Homo sapiens: one gene and its partner. The protein of the gene in region 1 interacts with the protein of each later gene in a biochemical or structural test. Each region holds a gene or a part of one and is shown on either strand. Other genes may lie near its edges. The genes, in order: CHRM3 and RGS7.

Evidence for each region.
Region 2: the proteins of CHRM3 (region 1) and RGS7 form a complex in vitro, tested with the Homo sapiens proteins (one study listed by BioGRID).

Annotation. Positions count from the first base shown.
Region 1 is NC_000001.11:239,388,263-239,398,892, reverse strand, and holds part of CHRM3 (muscarinic acetylcholine receptor M3), read right to left. Parts: intron 1-10,630.
Region 2 is NC_000001.11:240,798,965-240,809,594, forward strand, and holds part of RGS7 (regulator of G-protein signaling 7), read right to left. Parts: intron 7,363-10,630; coding exon 7,176-7,362; intron 4,030-7,175; coding exon 3,940-4,029; intron 2,545-3,939; coding exon 2,491-2,544; intron 1,758-2,490; coding exon 1,683-1,757; 3' UTR 1,677-1,682; intron 1-1,676. UniProt on the Homo sapiens protein: GTPase activator component of the RGS7-GNB5 complex that regulates G protein-coupled receptor signaling cascades.

The DNA of each region.
Region 1 (10,630 bases):
ATATCCTGCTTGCCTTCCAAAGAGAATCTGAGAATGCTTATATTAAAACTGAAAGGTTAAGAAAAATCCTAAAACAAAAGGGAAGTAATATACAGAAAAACCAAGCAAAACTGTCCACTGTGATTGAATGTTATTTTTAGGTCTAAGTTTCCTAGCAGCCAATGCAAAAATGAAATAAATATGCCTTAATTTTATTATCAGATAATTGCTCTTATTATTCCAAAGGAGGTTCAATTTTCACTTGTATTAAATTCTACAGGAAACACACAATCCATATGGGAGGAGACATATTAACTATACCAATGGACAAAATCTTCAGGGGTTTGATAGAAGATGTAGAAATATTCTTTATATTGGCCAGGCGTGGTGGCTCATGCCTGTAATCCCAGCACTTTTTGGGAGGCCGAGGCGGGCAGATCACTTGAGGTCAGGAGTTCGAGACCAGCCTGACCAACATGGTGAAACCCCGTTTCTACCAAAAATACAAAAATTAGCCAGGCGTGGTGGCACACGCCTGTAATCCCAGCTACTTGGGAGGCTGAGGCAGGAGAATCGCTTGAACCCAGGAGGCAGACGTTGCAGTGGGCCAAGATCATGCCATTGTACTCCAGCCTGGGTGAAAGAACGAAACTCCATCTCAAAAAGAAAAAAATACATTATTTATATAATTTCACTAACCCAGACTGCAAAAGTCTCCTATTGATTCAAAGTTGTAATCTTTTATTGTCTTACATTCTACTTTTAAGTTTCTTCTTCATAAGATACAGTCTCCTTTGCTGCTATCTCTAGGTTCCTCAAACATACTCCTGTCCTCCCTCTACCCAGGAAAATGACCTTCCCGAGTTCCACAACAGAACTATTTCTTAAATGACAAATATGGTATCAGTAACAAACATTCATCATTATGAAGACTTATCTCTCCAAAATTTCAAAGGGAATATTGATGTTTACTTCTAAAAGAATTTTCTTTTCAACAAATGCTTTATTGTGTGCCCCCAGTTACTGGCATTCTAAGACACGGCTCACATAACATTTTCCTTTTGTTTTTCACACTGCTTCTTCCTAAATTGTAGTTTTATTAAATACACTAAAATTTTTGGTATATCTTTTACAACATTTTCTATATATATATAGAAATATATATAGATATATTTTTATAGAATATATATTTATATATTTTATAGAAATATATATATATATATATAAATACATGTATTTTTTGAGACAGAGTCTCGCTCTGTTGCCCGGGCTGGAGTGCAGTGGCACGATCTCCGCTCACTGCAACCTCTGCCTCCCGGGTTCAAGAGATTCTCCTGCCTCAGCCTCCCAAGTAGCTGGGACTACATGCATGTGCCAGCACGCCCGGCTAATTTTTTGTATTTTTAGGAGAGAAGGGGTTTCACTGTGTTAGCCAGGATGGTCTCAATCTCCTGACCTCCTGATCCACCCATCTCGACCTCCCAAAGTGCTGGGATTACAGGCGTGAGCCACCACACCCGGCCACAACATTTTCTATATTTTTATTTCAAATTTATATTCATTAATGGAACAAAAAGTAATATACCTATACATATGTGTGTTAGATGATAGATAAATATGTACACATTCAGAATTCAAAATGAGTCACCTATTCTTTATGGAGCAAAATAATTTGAAAACTTACATTTCAGTATAAAATTGCAATCTGAGAGTTCACGTCATCAAATATGATAATTTTAACTTGTCATCAAAGATAAATGATTACTACTTCACCCGCAGTTCATCACTCAACATTAGCCTAAAGACATAAGTATAGCTTGGAACTTCCGGGGTAGTATTTGTGTCTTACTGTTACAGATCCGAAGTCTAGCACAATCTGAGGAGCAGAGAGAGAAATTGCTGAATAAAGGCATATTTAAGTGATCAGAAATTCAAAGCAAACATATTTCTACATTGCTAGGCCATTTTAAGCAGATTGGTTTTTATGCAGTTAAATCAGTCAATCTTTTGGAATAAGTTGCAGATTTTAAGAAGAGGAGATAGATTTACATTTAAAGTCAAGTTGCAAGAGTCTATTATTATCCCAGTTTTGTATAGAGTAAATGTTAGAATATGTATAGAAAAATATCAGAGGCAATCCTGTCGTGACATCAAACTGTTAACCATAGTTGTCTTTGGGGGCATTGGGTTATGGTGGACTTTTACTTTTGATATATATTTCCATAATGTTTGAATTTTTGTATGACATATATTACTTTTATAAGGAGACAAACAACAAAAACACTATATTTACTCTTTTCGAGACTGGATCTTGTTCTGTTGCCCAGGCTGGAGTGCAGTGGCACCATCACAGCTCACTGCAGCTTTGAACTAATGGGCTCAAGGGATCCTCCTTGCCTCAGCCTCCCATATAGCTGAGACTACAGGCAGGTGCACAATCAAATCCAGCTGATTTTTAATAATTTTTGTAGAGATTTTTTTTGCTAAGTTGCCCAGGTTGGTCTTCAACTTCTGGCCTCAAACCATCCTCCCACCTCAGCCTTCCAAAGTGAGCCACTGTGCCTGTTTACATATTTTATATGCGAATGTGCACACTGAGCATTTATGAAGAAGACTCTGCACTAGATACTTGAAAGCAGTCAAAGACCAACAAAACACAGCATCTTTCAAGGAGTTCACAGTCTGATATTTCAAACAATTTGTGGCACACACACACTAAAACCAAGAGTGAATGTAATCAGGGATAAAAGTGAGATTCTGATAGAGTAACAGAAGATGAATTCGTTTCAAGTGGTCCTTGACAAATTGCTAAAATTTGGATCCCTGATGATGTGGCACAAAGGGCATCCTATGCAGCAAGAGAACGTGGCAGAGGATGAGGATACCTGCAACAGCAAGTACCAGGGTAAAGTGAAGGGTGACCTTGAGACTTGAGACTGAACTCAACATGCAAACCCAAGCCATGAAATAGGGTGAAGCTGATGCGAGACATTTAGTCTTTATTCAACAGGCAATGGAAGGTGATGTCAAAGAAGGTGTTCAAGGGTAGGAGAAAGATGATCACATTTGGTCCTCAATAACAGTAATCTGTGTAAAATGGATCAAAGGCAATAATATGATCAATGAGATCATCTGGGAAGCTCAGAGACTAAGAAAAGATACAAAGCTAAAACATAAAGCCTTTCTTCTCAGTGTGGTCTGAGCACAGAGGAGCAGTATCTGCATCACCTGAAGGCTGGTTAGAAATGCAGATTCTCAGGCCCCAACCCAGCCCTCATGGATCAGAGTCTGCATTTTATCAAGATCCCTATGTGATCTGAATGCACATTTAAGTTGCAGAAATGATGAATTAAGATATTGGTAGCAGGAGGGGAAAGTAGCCAAGAAGGTTGAGATCTTACTTGGTTGAATCATTAGAATTCGGTACCTGGCTAAATGTAGGAGGTGAGGGAAGAGAATAAATCAAGATCACTTGATTTATTCATAACATTTGAGCTGTAGGATGGTCATGCTATTCATAGAAATAGGAACCCCAGGAGGGGAACAGGATGAGGAAGAAGGAGGGGAAGGCTGTGCTATCCAGCAAGCACATGGAAATGCTCCTTACTGAAGCCAAGTGACCCACATGGAAAGGGTATTTGAAATCGTGAAGACAGAGGCAGGTACAAAAGGAGAGGCAACGGAAGAGTATGGGAGTCAACCAGGGAGAAATTGCTGGAAAGCCCTACACTCTGCAGAAAATAGGGGTGGGGAACAGGAAGAAGAGAAAAGAACCAGAGGAGAGAAGAGAGCTAGGTAGGTATAATTCTCTGAAAATTAAGGGAGTTTAAAGGGATTGCTAAGAGATTAACCAGGACAGACAAGGAAGGGCTACCCGTTTTATGACTAAGAGGTTACAGGTGACTTTTGGAGAAGTCATTGCTATAAACCTCATGAAGGTGGATGAGAGGAGTCAAAAGATTTAAAGTCAGAGGGTAATGAGATTAGGGGAGTGTGATTGCTGTTCGGTGAGTGTAATTGAAAAGGTTAAGAAAAATCATGAAAATTTAGAAGTGGCACATAGGACCAGGTTGAAATAACTTTAAACTTCTCAACTTTAAAGATTTTCTTGTGGAAGAAAGATCAGAAGTGTTCTCATCATAATTCTCAGAATTATTAAGAAGGCAAATAAGTACAATGAGAATTAGATTTTTGGCTCAATATAAAGGGGATCTGCATCTCACTGCTCTGTGAAAATGGAATGACCCCCCTGGTGAGTGTTAATTTCTCAAACATACAGACTGCACAGTTTAACACAAGAGAGAGGTCCAAAGCCAAAAGTTGTTCATTAATGACATCTGCAGTGGTCTGAATGGCGGTCCCTCCAAAAGATGTGCCCACCTCCTAATCCCCAGGTTCTGTGATTACCTTATATGACAAAAGATGTGATGTGATGAAGTTAAAGCTCTTGAAAGGAGGAGCTTATCCTAGATTTTCTGGCTGGGACTTCACTGCAATCACACATATCCTTATAAGACAGGCATATACAGGAGGAGACAGTGAAAGAGGTGGAGGAGGCAACGTGACCACAGAAGCAGAGATTGGAATGATATGCTCACAAGTCAAGGAATGCAGATAGCTACCAGGAGCTGAAGGAAGAAAGGAAGGATTCTCCCCTAGGGTCTTTAGAGGAAGTGCAGTCTTGCCAACACCTTGATTTCAGACTTCTGGCTTCCAGAATTGTGAAAGAATAAACTTCTGTTTTAAAACCTAAGAAATTCACGCAACATCTAACATCCCCTTCCAACCCAGATTTGTTTAGTTACACTCACATTGATCATATGCTCTGAAAAGCAGAGCCCTTGACTTACTGTGTATCCAAAACAGAATGTCCATGGTACTTTGCACATTAGATGATACTGATATGAAAGATGTGATAATGGATGTATATACAACACCTATGTAAATGAACATAGGTGGATTAGATATAAAGAGATAGATAATTGATAGGTAGATAGATGGAATGATTGAGTCATTTACTCATTCTACTCAAACATGTATTTATTATATATTTACTTATATACTCTCATGAAGGTAACTTCTTTGGAGAGAATCAAAATAAATACTACCTGGGTTATCCTTGAGCATCAAATTTTATATTAAAAATGGTGAGTGCCACTAGTATTCAGAGTAGAGGGAAGTGATTTGTAGTTGTTTAGTCAGACCGATTTTCAGTTTCTAACATTCAAATGAATCAAGGGATTTAAAATAATTAGTCACAGGGAAAAACAGAATGATAGCTGCGCTCAAGGAAAGCTGGAAGAGTTTGGCTGGTCCTTGCATGATGGAAAGGATCTGGGGTGAGGAGAGAAGAAAGGAGGACTCCATATAAAGAAACATCATGGCCATTCCAGATTCCCATCACCTCTCCCTTCACACAAGCTACTGCATGTGGCATGTGTTATCGGGCATGTGAGAAAGCACAGGAAACACGGCAGGAGGATCATCACGTCTATTTCAAGTATGAGAACTTCTTTTCAATGTAAATCGTTTGAGAGACCTCCCACAACAGAAGTTGTGCTTTTAGACTATTTTGCACTAAGAAAATTGAAAAATCACAAAAAAGACTGTGTTCAATAACATTTTTAAATGACTATGGATATACATTTAAATATAGTCATCAACATATTGTCAATTTGAAGCCAAAAACCCAACAATATTTAATATTTATATGGGATCTTCTTTCTTTCTTTCTTTATTGAAGAGATGGGGGTCTTGCTATGTTGTCTAGGCTGGAGTACAGTGGCTATTCACAGGTGCAATCATAGTACATTATAACCTTGAACTCCTGGCCTCAAGTGATCTTCCTGCCTTAGCCTCCCGAGTACCTGGGACTACAGGTGTATGCCACTATGCTCAGCCAAAATTTATATGGATTGTGAGTCTACAAAATACCACTGGATTAGGTTTCAATGGAAGTGAGAGCTAGCTCGATGGAATGTCAAATGGCTGTGGGCAAGAATTGGCCTGTATGTATTAATAGTTAGCAGTAACCAGGTTTCCCTCCAGTCTGGATCCCATGGGCAATTCTAGTGGGAGAAAATGTACTCCAAAGTGACAAGTCTTAAAAAATGTAGACAAAGGCTGTTAGCAGCTCCTTTTTCCTACAGTTTAGTGACAGAATATTTTTATATGTATCTATGTCTATAGCCATAGCTACCTATGGTAAATTAGAAGGCTTCAGTAGAAGAGCACCAAAACACTTCACAGCCATAAATGCAGGGAAGTACACACTTGGTAGCCCCTCTCTCTGGGAACTCTCTCCAAAACAGGCTGAAAGTATTTCACCTTGGTTTAAACTCACCTGAATTTTATCTGAACAGCAGTAGTCGGCGGATATCCTGCCTGAACCAGGATGTCTACATTAGCACCACTTCCTGTGCTAGAGGTGACAGAAGGTAGACGATGTCATGGCTCAGCTGGCATGCCAAATTTCAAGGGAACAGTGGGGACAGGAAGCAGGCTAGGACTGGGCTAGAACAAATGACCTAATGAAGGATTAATTCTGTAGTGGATAGTCAGCCACTCAAATTACATTGCTTGGGAGAGGTGTGGAGAACTGAGATTTGATCCTGCCAACAATGACAGACAAGGAGAATTTATTTGTCAAGTGGAACCGGGCACTACAAGTCTCAGGCGGAAATGATGCACTGTCAGGAGAGGAGCTGTGCCTTAGGTCCAAGGGTTTGTCACACTGAGATTGAATCAGAGACAGAATAGAAAGAAAGGGGTCTTGCTCCTGGAGAGAAGTTCTTGGCAAGGGCGAGGCTGACTGCCAAGGTCATAGCTAAAATTTTCCCAGGCCAGACATTAAATCCAGTACTGAAAGTGCAAATTGAAAACTCAATAAAATCCTAGTCCTACGAAATGGTAAATATGACAGGAGTTAGAGAAACTGAGGTGAGGGGGGCATGAGAATTGCTAGAGCTCACTAGGGTTAGGACAGACTCTGCACTGGTTGTGGAATCAGAAGGGCCAGGCTCCTGAGTCCCATGCAGAGCAGGCTTGGAAAGGCAAGGTCTCAAAGCCCACAAGGCATCTGCCAGCTACTGTTTATCAAATTGGTTTTTGTTTTTTGTTTTTAATTTTTGGCCACCATTGTTTTTCTCAAAGTGTTCATATTCCGGATGGCTTCAGGATGAACTGGCACAATTGGTGAGAAGCTGGCAGGGGCTCAGAATATTCCTTCTGTTGACTTCCTGTCATCACTACTGGACCCTAGGTCTGTGTCAATGTGGCAAGCTGCAGCTGCAGCCTCAGCAGAGGAAGCTAAGAAGGTGCACGTCAGCCAGAGTCCTTGGCCTTCAGGAGGGGATGAGCGGGAAGTTCCAACAGGTGGGAGAATGCAGATCGCCAGCCTAAAAGAGAGAGCCTGCCAGAGGCTGGGGAATCTGCAAGCTGCCAAAACTTCTGGATAGAAAACAACACACAGAGGCCAAAAACTGAGCCAGAGGGCCACTACATACTGGCGCTCAGTGCTGTCCATCATGGTGTACTGAGGGGGCTCTGGGTTCCAATCAAGCACTGCATTTCAGAGTTTGTTCAAAAAGCACATCCACATGCACTGGATTCTCAAAACCAATCCATGGTATGGACAGGGCAACTACTATGGTCTTCAAGTGTACAGTGGGGAATGAAATGTTTGAGGTCACACAGTTATCACATAAGCCACATTATGGTTTAATATTTTCAATTGCTTCACCAAACCAAAATTACTATTATGATGATGATTATGTAGAGACAGAGTCTCAGACTCTCGTACAGGCTGGAGAGCAGTGGCATGATCCTGACTCACTGCAGTCTCGAACTTCTGCATTCAAGCTATCTTCCCACTGCATCTTCCTTAGTAGCTAGGAATACAGGTGCACGCCACCATGCCTGGCTAAGTTTTTACACTTTTTGTAGAGATGGGGTCTGGCTATGTTGCCTAGGCTGATCTTGATTTCCTTGCCTCATGTAATCCTCCTGCCTTGGCCTCCCAAACTGCTGCCATTACTGGCATGAGCCACTGTGCCCAGACCAAAATTATTTTTATTTCTTGCATTGAAGACAACACTAATGGAGATCTATACTGTCTGGGGCATGCAACTGCTAGGGAAGGTAGCAGGCTAACAGAGCTCTCCAGGTGCTAGTTCACTGATGAAAAGGGAAGCCTTTCATGAGGCAGAGAATTGCTTGAACCTGGGAGGCGGAGGTTGCAGTGAGTCAAGATCATGCCACTGCACTCTAACCTGGGCGACAGAGTGAGACTCCATCTCAAAAAAAAAAAAAAAAAGTGAGGGAAGCCTTTCATACCTGCACACCCTCTCCGTGGAGGGTGGGCAGAGGGAGCAATGCAGTGATGAGTGATTTGAAGAAATACTCTGCTTAGCATTTGATCTGAACAAAGATATATTCCCTAATGGAGAAGATAGGGCCTTTCAGACACCAGAAACTAACTTCTAATTTAACTGATTTTGCCTCCTGTCATATACATTAGATTATCTCTTCATAAAATTAAAACTTTCCATTGATGTTGAAATTTTATTCCAAAGTTCTGAAAGGCTAGTAATTTTTCAGAACAGGGCTTCTGCTGGACTTGCTGAACTTTATAGATGAAAAATATATTGCATCTAGGAAAACACTATATTAAACAATTAAGCATAAAGGCACATTTTATTATGCTGATTAACTTTTAAAAGTAAACGTGGTAGAGGGATTTGATTACAATTTTATTAAGCTCATAGATACCTTTTACAATAGTCTTATGTAAGGAGAATACATTTTAAATTCACAAACATAAAAGACAACATCTCTAGTTACTCACTGATCCTCCAAAATCACACTGTGAGAATAATGCTATTAGTCATCATATGATATAAAATCAGGTTCCATAAGTGAAGGACAGATACACTTCTCTGCATACTGATCAGTCTCCATCTTCATATGATTCACGGTTCATTCATCTCCTATCTAAAGTGCCACTACACCACAGCTGTTCCCAGTATAAACTTCCCGGCACTGCAAACAAGACCCAATTTCTTAATAGTCACACTGGAATCGTCCAGGCCATTTAGCAGTAAGCAACTGAGCTTGCCAATGTTAACAAAGTTATTAGGCAAGAACAATATGTTGGCTGGGAAAATGACAGAGATTTTAACTAAAAATCTGAAAATATGTATTACTTTATAATTTACAAATACATAAGGCAACTTTGCTTTTAACCATATCGTTTAACTTTCTGTCTATTCAATTTACAAGTGTGAATCTAAGAAATTCTATGTCTGCCAATTTCACATTTTTTCCATGCCCTCTTTCAACAGGTTGCCTGCAATTAAAGGCTAAAATATCATTAAAAGAACTTCACATTTTTACATACTCTAATTTATAACAAATTTTCTTTGTTAAGAAATTAAATCATTTGTCTTTATAAGGAAAAAATGAGAAGGTACACTCTAAAGAACTTTTACACATGCCTAAATAATCTTCAGAAGTAAATAATACTTTTGAAGTGACATTTTACTTCCCCCTACCCCAGAATAAAAGTAGGGTACTGAATATTCATCATAGATTTCTCTAAATTTTAAAGCAAACTTTCCTAAATAAGCTTAAATGTAGGTTTAATACAGAACTACTCATTATAACACTTGTTCTTTCTTTAAAACTTGACCAATTCCACATTTGCTCCTTTTCCCAAATTACATTTTTCCCTTACAATAATTTTCCACACAGAAAATTTATAAAGATTTTTCAAAGTCTACTTTTTATCTCATTTTCTTTTTCAACTGTCATGTTCATTCGATTAATGACGCAACGTTATTTAAAAAACAATATTTCGACATTGCTATTTTCGTGCTACATTCGATCTCATAATACCCCCCAACCTAGAGAAACATTCTAAATCCGACCGGCAATGTCATTATTTTTAAATTAGTAATTAAGCGAACGTTATATTTCCATATGGAAACCACTACAAAAATAACGTGCTTTCTAGCCCAACAATAGCTAATTATGTATTAAGCTAATTGAGACAAACCATGTAAACAAAATCTAAAGATAGACTATTCGGCGGTAGAAGCTATGATGTAAACCACATTTCTGTGGCATGTTGGAATGCACACTGAAGAAGCAGGCATGTTCCTTGCACATGTATACTTCGGGATATCAGCTCTTATAACAAGAGGGTGCACTCAACACCTCGTCTATCCCACAATATTTGGAACAGAAATACCTTAGTTTTTTATTAACGTGCTACCACTACAATACGCTTATATGCAGGTATCTGCTCTAGGTTTAGTTTTCCCCTTTCTGAACTATATGTTCATAGTCTCTCTTAAGTAAATACATGGGCATTGTTTTAAACACAGGAAATAATGATGAATGGTTCATGCGATATAACGATCTCACAATATGAAATTATCTGGACTATATAATCACTGCACCCAGTTAAAAATTATTTTTCAAATAGTAACCTACAAAGGTCAAAATGGGGGGAGGGGACAGGTTATCTGTCTTGGAACTCAGAGGGCAAGAGAGAAAGGAAAAGTCTGTGCAAAGCATATGGTGAAATAACCAGTGTTCTTAACCACACATCGCTTTGATAAATACATTTTTGTCCTAAAGAGGGCCGCCC
Region 2 (10,630 bases), 1.4 Mb from region 1:
ATCACTCATTCTTTATCTTCCATTAAATTATTTTATTGATCCTATAAAGGTGTCTCATAAAATTTAGTATGTAAAGATCTAAGATGCTTGATACAGCTGCCGACCATGAAGTTATAAAATACGGAACACTAAACCAAGGGGAAATTCAGAGAACCTTTTAATTTCCTTACTCCATTTCTTCAGAATAACACCCAAATAAAGGTATTAAATAAAAAAGATTGCATTTTATTTTCCTGGATGGAAAAGGATTAACACTAAGCAACAGTGTCTGAAAGTTATTATTATGGTTTGTGTGTGTGTGTGTGTGTGTGTGTGTCTATGTTTGTGTGTGTGTGTGTGTGTGTGTGTGGATGGTATTCAACTTCTTTTCCTTCAGTAATTCCAGTTGTTTTTTTTTTTTCCACTTCTCTTTAAGAAGGTGGTTGCTCTTCTTGGTCTAGTGAAATCCTGCAAATTCAGTTAAATGTAACTTCTGGGATTTCTCAGATTACATATGGGCCCTCCCTCCTCACCCTAACACCCAGTAGAAATTGTTTATCTTTCCCTTGTACATCCTAACATTTTGTCTATACCATTGGGTACCTTTGAGATCAAGCTCTACCATGGATATCCAACCTTTTGGCTTCCCTAGGCCACATTGCAAGAAGAATTATCTTGGGCCACACATAAAATACACTAACACTAATGACGAATAATCTTAAAAAAAAGGTCTGTGCATAATTTTTATAACATCTACCACCACAGATAAGCAAAAATGTCCTTGCATTCAAAGGGTTGGACATGGCTGCAAGTCTATACTTTCTACATGGTCCCAAGACATAGCACATGGTTTAGAATAGAGGTGGCAATTGTGTGAATTTTGATTGAAGGTGTGGATGATCAGTCCTCCCTTCCCCTTGTTTCCTGTTGGCCCTTTCTTAAAGTTTGCAGTGTGTGACCATATGGTACTATTTTAAGAGTTTGAGAAGTGGGTTAGATATGATGTTGGAAGAAGGACAACCATTTGACTTCCCCTTTCCATCTTCCCCAGGTTACATCACTATTTTAAATTATATCACAGAAATTTCCATTGTAATTTCAAGAACAGTATATTCTGTCAGCATTACGTTTGAAAAGGATTAACTTGAAATGCTTCTTAAACAATACACAGAGTACCTCACATTATCTGATAGTCACTTTCTCCAGCAAAATCTTGGAGAATTGTTTGACATTGTCTTTATTGCCCCATGGTGACTTATGAGGCATGCTTCAGAAAATTCTGTATTAAAGAACAGAGGTTCCAATAGTGCCAGCCAAAATTTCATAAAATTTATTTACAATGTGATTAATTCCTGGAGTCCATCATTCTCCATCCCTTTAATTCATGCAATCACATTGAATGTTCACAGTATATATTACTGTTCAAATTCTTTCAAATACTCTGTGTACCGTTGCAATGGTAATTCACAAGTAGAAATGAGTAACATTCCCCACCACAAGGATCCTTGAAGGAAACTGAAAACAAAAGCCATTATCTTTGTTGAATCCAGTTTGCTCACATTTCAACACACATAACTCCACTGAACTGGCCATCACAGCAAAAGCCACAACACACACACACACAGCAGCATGGAGCTAAACCACACAACTCAACAGACAATGCAGACAAACTTGAGTATAAACCAAGATTTTTCTACCTCTTTTCATAACAGGTTAGTGCTGGCCCTCAGTGTTGGTGTACAGTTTTTATGGCATGGGAAAATAGGGATGTTTCTGCCCTATAAAAATAAATGTGTTGAAGGCTTTAGTTTGAGCTTACACAATGTCAGAAAGTTCCAAAGGCACTGGCACAATACAAAAAAAAGAATCTTACAAACAAATATATATCATCAAAACACATGGCAAGATACTAAGAAAACACTGGTAGGAAAACTACTGGTTTCTCAGGTGATTTATGCAACAGTTTTCAACACCTTCCTGAAAAATAAGGAATAAGAAAGGCAGGCTAGTGGGTCTCTGGTGGGGCATATCTTGTCACCAACCACCACTCATATAAAATCTTTAATTTTAAACTGCTCAGTAGATCATTTTCTCTCTGCAGAAGTAAAACGCATAGAACCCTCATTGTTCTTAACATTTTAAGCCTCAGGAAGGGCTAAGGGAAAGAGCATAGAAATACATGCACTATCTTTAATAAAGAAAGGAATACAAGGAATAAAAATAAAATATAAAGAATAATTATTATTCCTTCCTTTTATATGTTGTAATATAAACTTCTTTCCAAACTTTAATTCTGTACAGATAACTTGTTCATATATAACATCTTTTTCTACTTTGGAAAGGGATGGGACAGAAAGATAAGCAGAAAACATGAAGTTCTGAATTTGAATAAAAGAAACACTTTTGCTGTTATATCAAGAATGCAAGGTGGGTAACAGGGCTAGAAATAGGGAAATTGGAAAAATTTCATTGGACTTAATGATTCATAATTCCTCAAAAAATTAAACTTACCACATTCTGTGCAAATTTTTCAAAAGATGTTCTGCGATCCATTGAGTTTCCAGACTTACGTATGTGGGGTAGGATAGGATGAAGGGAAATAAGGGAAGATTAAAAAAAAGAAAGAAAGCAAGGAAAACAGAGCAGAAAAAGACAGGATAATGAAATGATGCAACACCAAATCCATGTTCTAAATCAGAAGGCCCATAGAGGTTGGAGAGCCGCCAAGGGAGGCTTCTTCTCACAGGACATGGGCTCTGCTTACACCAAAAACTTTCCTTGTACAAACAAAATGGTGTGATTCAAGCAAAATCAAATTCAGCCAAAATAAAGTGGATATGTGAAGCCTTTATACTGACATTTGCAGAGCCTAAATATTTAAAAATCTAGCAGCATATCCTCAGAATTTCCTCAAAACTTTTATGAGAAAAAATTCCTATTGACAACATCATTAATTCCATAGAGCATTAATGTCTAATAGAACTTTCCAAAAGGATGGAAATCTCATTCTATGCTGTCCAATACAGAAGCCCCTAGCTGTGGTTACTGAGCACTTGAAATTTGGCTAGAATGTTATATAATTTTAATTAACTAATATTTAAACAGTCCCACGTGGCTAGTGACTGCTGTACTGGATAGTGTTACTACAAAGTATCCATTTCTAGTTGTAAAGGCAATGGACTTTTAAAAATCTTATTAGCCTACATGACGATCATGAACTACACAAAATTATAATTTAAACTCAGAGTTTCAAGAAGCTATGAACTATTTTAACATTAAAAAGAATGAATGACGTTGATGTTTATGTCCAGATTTTCTCTTCCCTGTTATATTGATTACATAAGGAGTTATGAACAGAGAGACATTGATTATTAACATTGTTGAATAATGAGGTCTACTACAATACCCCCATAATGTGCTTGGCTACCATGCTAGGTGTATAAAATTCATCACAGGGATATTAAGTGATTCAGGATAAATGCCAAATAAAAATATTCGGAAGCAAACATTCCGACATTTTGTCATCTATTATTGAAAAAGGTGAGTCTACTTTCAGTTATGAGGCCTGTGGTTCAAAACATACATTCTAGCTTACTAAACAAAGAAACCTCTCTTCAAGTTTTTGACCTAATGACTTTGTTACTTTCTTTTCTTTATTGTAATTTTGATTCCATGAAACTAGGCATACAGAAGACTAACATGAAACATGAAAACAGCTTCTAATAAATTTTGCAAAGCATGAACATCTGCAGAAACAAACAAACAGAAAGTAATACAATAAGCAATAAACAAACAGAAACAACTTAAATGGCCCTTATAAAATGCAAAGGTTTGGGGGAGGGTCTTGGAGTATGTTCACTTACCATTAGTCCAATACCCTGGATTCAGCAGAGGTAATTACTCCAAATAATTATAACTGAGAACTAGGCCAAGAAAAAACAACTCACAAAAAACCAGTACCTTTTTCTTTGCCTGTAGAAGCTCCTGATAGGCACTGGATCTTATAAAACGTGGGTATGAATCACTTTTCATCAGTTTGTAAATGTGCTCCTAAAAAGAAATAATGGTTGAGGTGCTTCTTTATGATTTCTTGGGAAAAGTAAAATATCATGATGTCACACATGGCTAAAGAACAAATCTAGTAGCAGCGAAAAATAGTAATAACAATGCTGATTAGAATACCTTCTATTTACAGGATATTTAGATCTTCAAATTCATTATCTCATTCATAGATCATTGTTTAAATTGGTTTAGGAGCTACTGAGGAGGCAAATCACATCCAGTCATTACAAAAATGGAATTTGATTAATAAAATGTCATAAAATTACCTCAAATCAAGTTGTTGACTTATATAGATCACTAGAGAATATAACTAAATTTGCTGTCTCTTAAAACTACTCCAGGCCTGAAGTGGGTAATGTTGACTCAGACTGAGTAATCATCCTGGATACCTTTGGCCTCTACATTTACTGGGAGGGTGCCAACTACCCAGAAGAATCAAATCATCTCTTTGGTACAAATTGCATGGAAAATTGTCTTCCATACCCACTTTGGGTCAGAGCACAAGTCCAAAAATAAATTTTGTGATATTTAATTGCTAAATCTCCAAATTTGTGTGCTCTTTCTTATTACTTACCCAGTGACAGATTAGGTAAATAGTTGATCATTTGCCCCTAAGAAGTTTGCAATATTCTGTTTTGATGATGAATTTTGATAGACAAGTCAAAAAAAAAAAAGGAAAAAGGTACTCATTCAATTCAATCTAGACCCAATCTAGGGAGGTTCCACTCTGGTCTACCGCAGCTCAGGGAGCTAACATGTGCCTTGATCTTCCAACTCTAGTGAAATATCAGTTAGGTGTAGAGCTTGGAACTATTGGAGAGCATTCTGAATGTTCCAGTTTTCTTTTCTTTCTTTTTTTTTTTCTTGAAGAAAATAGATGTTTCAAGAAATGACTCCAGTTCTCTGGTCTTAAACACAACAGCAATAATTTGAAGTTACTTTAAATTCATTTAAAGACATTCAGGATTAAATCTCAAGACTTAGCCCAATGGTGATCTTCAAAGGATGTTAAGTTTGGAACTGTATGGGAATTTGTTTGAAAAGTAGAGCAATGGCTGGTTTTGGAGTTAAGCATTTTGAGATTCACATTCTACCTTGCTCAAGAACTACCACTTACAAATGGGATAAATATAGGCCAACTTTTTCATCTCTCTGATCCTTAATTTTCTCATCTATAAAATAGCATTGTTGTGATGATTAAAGGAATAATAAATGTGTAGCAAAGCATGGGGTGTGGATAGTAAGTGCTCAAATATACTTGGGTATATGGCAGGTACTCTTTTAAGTGCTTTCCTGTATTAGTTAATATAAGCCTTACAAAACCCCTATGGGGTTGGTAACCATTATGTCCATTTTACAGGTGAAGAAACTGAGGCGTGGAGAAGTGGTCACAGAGCAGAGCTGAAATCAGAACCCAGGCAATTTACCTTACGATCAGATTTTTTTTAAAAACCACAAAAAAAACTAGAATTAAATATCTGAGCTTAACTGAAAAAGAAATCTAGGGCCAAGTGGTATTGTTTTCTATAGAATTTTTTTTTCTGTAAGAAAAGAGGATCCTCTTAGGCAAGAATATTTTTAAATGACACCGATAACTAAAAAAAATTCTATTTTAAACCTCAGGAAGGGCATTCCAAACATTTTCCACATTGTTGGCTCTAGAAAGATGCTCGGCATTTTATCTTGGACTGAAAGAAAGAAAAATCAGCAGAGAAGTGAGCAGCAGGGCCAGAGTTTCTGGCCTGCTCTCTGTCCTGTGTCTCTCTAGAGTGTAATTATTTCTACATTGGAGACCATGGCTGAACCACATGGGATAGGTATCCAGTTAGCTGTTAAAATTCATGTTAGTTTACTACACAGTTGCTGATTTCTTTAAATGAAAGCCAAGGAGAAATATATTTTCTATAGAGAGTGGAAATAAGGAAGGATATTCGTGTATCTCATTCTTCATCTTCTATATTTTATTTTAGTAATGTGTGTTTTTTAAAAGGTACTTTTTAGAATTAATATTCTTCTCCAAAAGAAGTTTAAGAAGTTATGAAGTATGCACGTTCTGATTTAAAAACCAACTTCAACACATCATTAGGGAGTGGGTGCAGTGGCTTATGCCTGTAATCCCAGCACTCTGAGAGGCTAAGGTGGGAGGATTGCTTGAGCCCAGGAGTTGGAGACCAGCCTGGGCAACATAGGGAGACCCACCCTGTCTCTACAAAAAAAAATAAAAAAAAATTAGCCAGGCATGGTGGTGCATGCCTATGGTCCCAGCTACTTGGGAGGCTGAGGTAGGAGGATTGCTTAAGCCTGGGAGGCCAAGGCTATAGCGAGCCATGATCATGCCACTGTAGGTAACAGAGAGAGAACTTGTTTCCAAAAATAAAATAAAATAAAATAAAATACCACATTATTAGGAAACACTATCCCCTCATTACAAGTTTATTTTTCTTCTTAAGTTTCAACATTTTTTGAGAGAAGGCAGAAATTCAAGTTGTTTCTACAAAGGGAATTAAGATCCAGTTTGAGAAAAGATGACTGAAAATTTGCCTTAGGAAGTTAGAATCAGTTTTCCTTATTTTTTCTTTCTGTAGGCTAAAAAATTAACTTGAAAATTTAAGAAATGTCAGAATCTAATGTTTGATTTTTTTTTTCACCAGAGATAAAACTGGTTTGAGTTTGACATAACTTTAAGCTAATTCAGTTTGAATAATTTATAATAATGAATAATTCAGGAATGTCAGAGTCTTAGAATGTCTACATTGAAGATGCCTTAAAGATTTTAAATCTTTTTAAAAAAATGTTTTAAAAAATCTTTTACTGAGGTGGGGTCATCATTAGATGGTGTTTGCTCACTTACTGGGGGGACAAACAGAGTAGAAAATGAAGTAAAAGTTGTAAAATATTTCAAATATGCCCCTTCATATAAAAATATTCAAACTTAGAAAATATTCCCAGGTTTTAAAAAAACTATTCAGTTTAATGTGTCTTTGTTCCTTCCTAGATCAGTTAGAGTTATTTTACAGTTATCTAAATTGAAAATGTTAGAAATAGCTGCCATTTAGAATGAAAATAAAATGAATACATCTAACGCTCAACTTCTCGGAAGCACGTTTGTGGTGTGAGGCTCACCGTACACCCACCTGAGCATCTTCAAATGTGTATCGTCCAGGTTCCTTCACGTTCTGTGTGGTTTTGTCATAACTCTTGGAATCCAAGTTAATAGCACTGGGGGCTCCGGGAGCCAGAAACTCTTGCCATATTTCCTGAACTCTTGAGGGTACTTCTTTAATAGGCCTCTTTTTCAGGTCCTCCACTGCCAGCCAGAATCTATGCAGAATGTGAGATCGGGTGTTTACTCTGATGGCCCATCATCTGAAAATTCTTGTGACATTTACGGATCATGCAGTTCATCATGACGACTCACAGCCAGCTCACTTTCTCTGAGGGCTTCCAGTATCAGGGTGGTACTGACTGTGTTCAAAGGATAATCTTCTTTGGAAGATTATTATGAAAAATAATTATTAATAAAAATATAAAAATATTAATAAAAATATTTTAAAAATATAAATAAAAAATATTAATAAAAATATAAAGAAACATGAAAAACTCTCTCTTCTAAGTGTTTGTTGTTAAAAGCAGATCTGTCAGAGCCCCGTATAACACTGATTTTACCTAAGGAAAGTAGCACTTCTGACTGTTGATTGAAAACAAAGAGGAGTTTGAAGGGAATTAAAGGTGTGGGACATGGAGCCTCCAATTGGGAGATAAAGCTGTGCATTACACTGTGTTCTTTGGATGTTCTGTCCATTTCAGCAATGGGGGCTAGTATGGAGAGCCTTTTCTGTTCTAGGTGGTAAGGGAATTACAAAGAAGCTTTGCTGGAGTTAAAAGAGGCCTGGACATAAGATCAGAAAATGCTCTGGCTGGAAAAATAAAAACAATTAACTAATGTTAAGGTAATTTAATTGAGAGAGTTATGGAATGACCAAAGCAGCAAGCTTTCACATGGAATTATTTGAAAAGTTGAAATGTGTAGAGGCATCATTGCAATTCAGAAGCCACGGAATAATATATACTGACTTACTTCTGAAGATAGACTTATTTATACCATATGTATACTGAAAGAACCTGGGAGTGTGTTTTGGTTGATAATAGCAAGTGGTAAAGTCTAGTGAGAAGGGGCCACATTGTATTAATCGGTTGCATTTCTTCAATATTTTGCTCTAGGCTAGAGCTTGCTGGTTAGATCTCTAGAAATAATGTTTAAAAGATAAATGAGTATATCATAATTTGTTAATAGAAACAAACACTCTACTAGAAAAAGGAGCTGCTAGGACTGTGTTATCCTCCATAAACACTCTTACTGCTCTAATAGTAGACGAAGTCAAAGAAAGGCAAAGAGGGCCACAGAGACAGCAAACTTCAGGCTACAGAGTCTTAAGAGAGGCACAGGTGATCAGCAGTACCTTCGTAACTACTAAGCTTTAACTTGACCATTAATAAATAATCAGAAATCAGTAATGAAGTGCATGAGCTAGAATTAGAATATCAACTACTACTCAGTCTAGTGATTTTTGAGTTTTCATTTCCAGATTTTGTTTTTTTATAGATATATGTAGCAGAGGATAATCTAAGTTTGACAACGCCTCAAACAGGAAACTACCACCATGACTTTTAGAAAGGAAGGCTCAAGACCTTTCCCTCTTAAAACACAGATTTAGACACTGTGCACTCTAATAGGAATACTATGCGAGGCTGGGCATGGTGGCTCACGTCTGTAATCCCAGCACTTTGGGAGGCTGAGGCGGGCAGATAACCTGAGGTCGGGAGTTTGAGATCAGCCTGGCCAACATGGTGAAACCCCATCTCTACTAATAATACAAAAATTAGCTGGGTGTGGTGGCGAATGCCCATAATCCCAGCTACTCGGGAGGCTGAGGCACGAGAATCGCTTGAACCCGGAAAGTGGAGGTTGCAGTGAGCAGAGATCATGCCATTGCACTCTAGCCTGGGCAACAAGAGCAAAACTTCATCTCAAAAAAAAAAAAAAAAAAAGGGAATACTACGCATAATCCGAGGGAGCAGAAGTGTTGAAATTAACATATGCTCAGGCAAGTTCATGCCAGCACACTCTGAACACATCAATCAAAACAGTCTCTGTCCTCAAAGAATGAGTAGAGAAAAAGATAAACCATTTAATTGGCCGTAACACCAGGAAGTACATGAATGGCTCTCTAGGAAGAGAACGAACTAGACGGTCTGGGAAAGGCAAGCAGGAAAGAGCCCCTCTGCTGGGGCAAGTGCTGGATTGGAAAAGGGGGATCTAGACAAAGCTATTCTAAATCCAGTGACATCTGAAATGGGCCTGGAAATAAGCATAAAATATAAAGGGGTTGAGAAGTTAATAACCACACCTACACTGTTATGTAAGTGCAGGCACTGCTCTAAGTGATTCACCTATATTAACTCATTTAATTCCCACAGTAATTCTATTAGGCAAGTTCTATTATTTCCCTCATTTTAGAGAAGAGGAAACTAAGCATATGAAGATTAAGTTGCTTATTTAAGGTTGCTCACTATTACTGTCACAGCTGAGGTTTGCTCCCAGAAGATCTGCAGCAGATGACATGCTCACAACCACTCCCTCACACGGTCTTTCTAACAGCATCATTGCCTTTCTTATTCTCACCATTACTGTAATTATTGTAATAGCTTAATAGCATGGAGGAGCCAGGTGCAATGGCTTGCACCTGTGGTCCTAGCTACTCAGGAGGCTGAGGTGGGAGGATCAGTTGAGCCCAGGATTTCAAGGCTGCTATGAGCTATGACAGTGTCTCTGAACTGCAGCCTGGGTGTCAGAGAAAGATCCCATCTCTCTTAAAAAAAAAAAAAAATCCTATATCCTTTATATAGGTGGAAGCTAAGTAAGTATTTTTAATGTCTTTGATTCTTGATTTCCTCATCAGTAAAATGGGATGATAACGCCTATTTCACTGGGTTTCCACTGGATTAATTGGTTTCCATTGGATTAGTTGATTAAATTAATTCCGTTAATGTATACTAATGATATAAATTATATAGAAGGCACTGAAAAGTACTTGGCATATTTTTAGTCACTCAAAGATAAAAACTCATGATATTACTATGTTTTCTTAGCACTTGCTCTATGCTATGTGTTTTGCTCAAAAAAAAGAATGAGGGAAATACATCATAAAATTTCAAGTTTCTGCTCTCTATTAGGGAGAGCAGAGGGTATATTTGAAGCATAAGTAGTTATCGAGAAACAGTGCTTCTTATTTTTTTCCTGTCCTAATATTTGAAAAAAAATGCTCAGACGAGTGACACACTCACTGATAGCAGGAGGGCAGCTGTTTAGGTAAGATGCACGGAGAGTTATTTTATTTTAAGTGCAATTCACAGCCCTGTTGACCACTGGACCATTTTGTCTCCTTCAGTGTGTGACACAGATATGTCAGTGGAAGCAGAGTAGGGCTCAGATTTGGGGAGCAGTGGACAGTAGCTTGGTACTGGTTTGTAGGAAACCAAGAATGCCACTTACATGCAATCTGACCTCCTTAGCCACACTTTCTCGGCT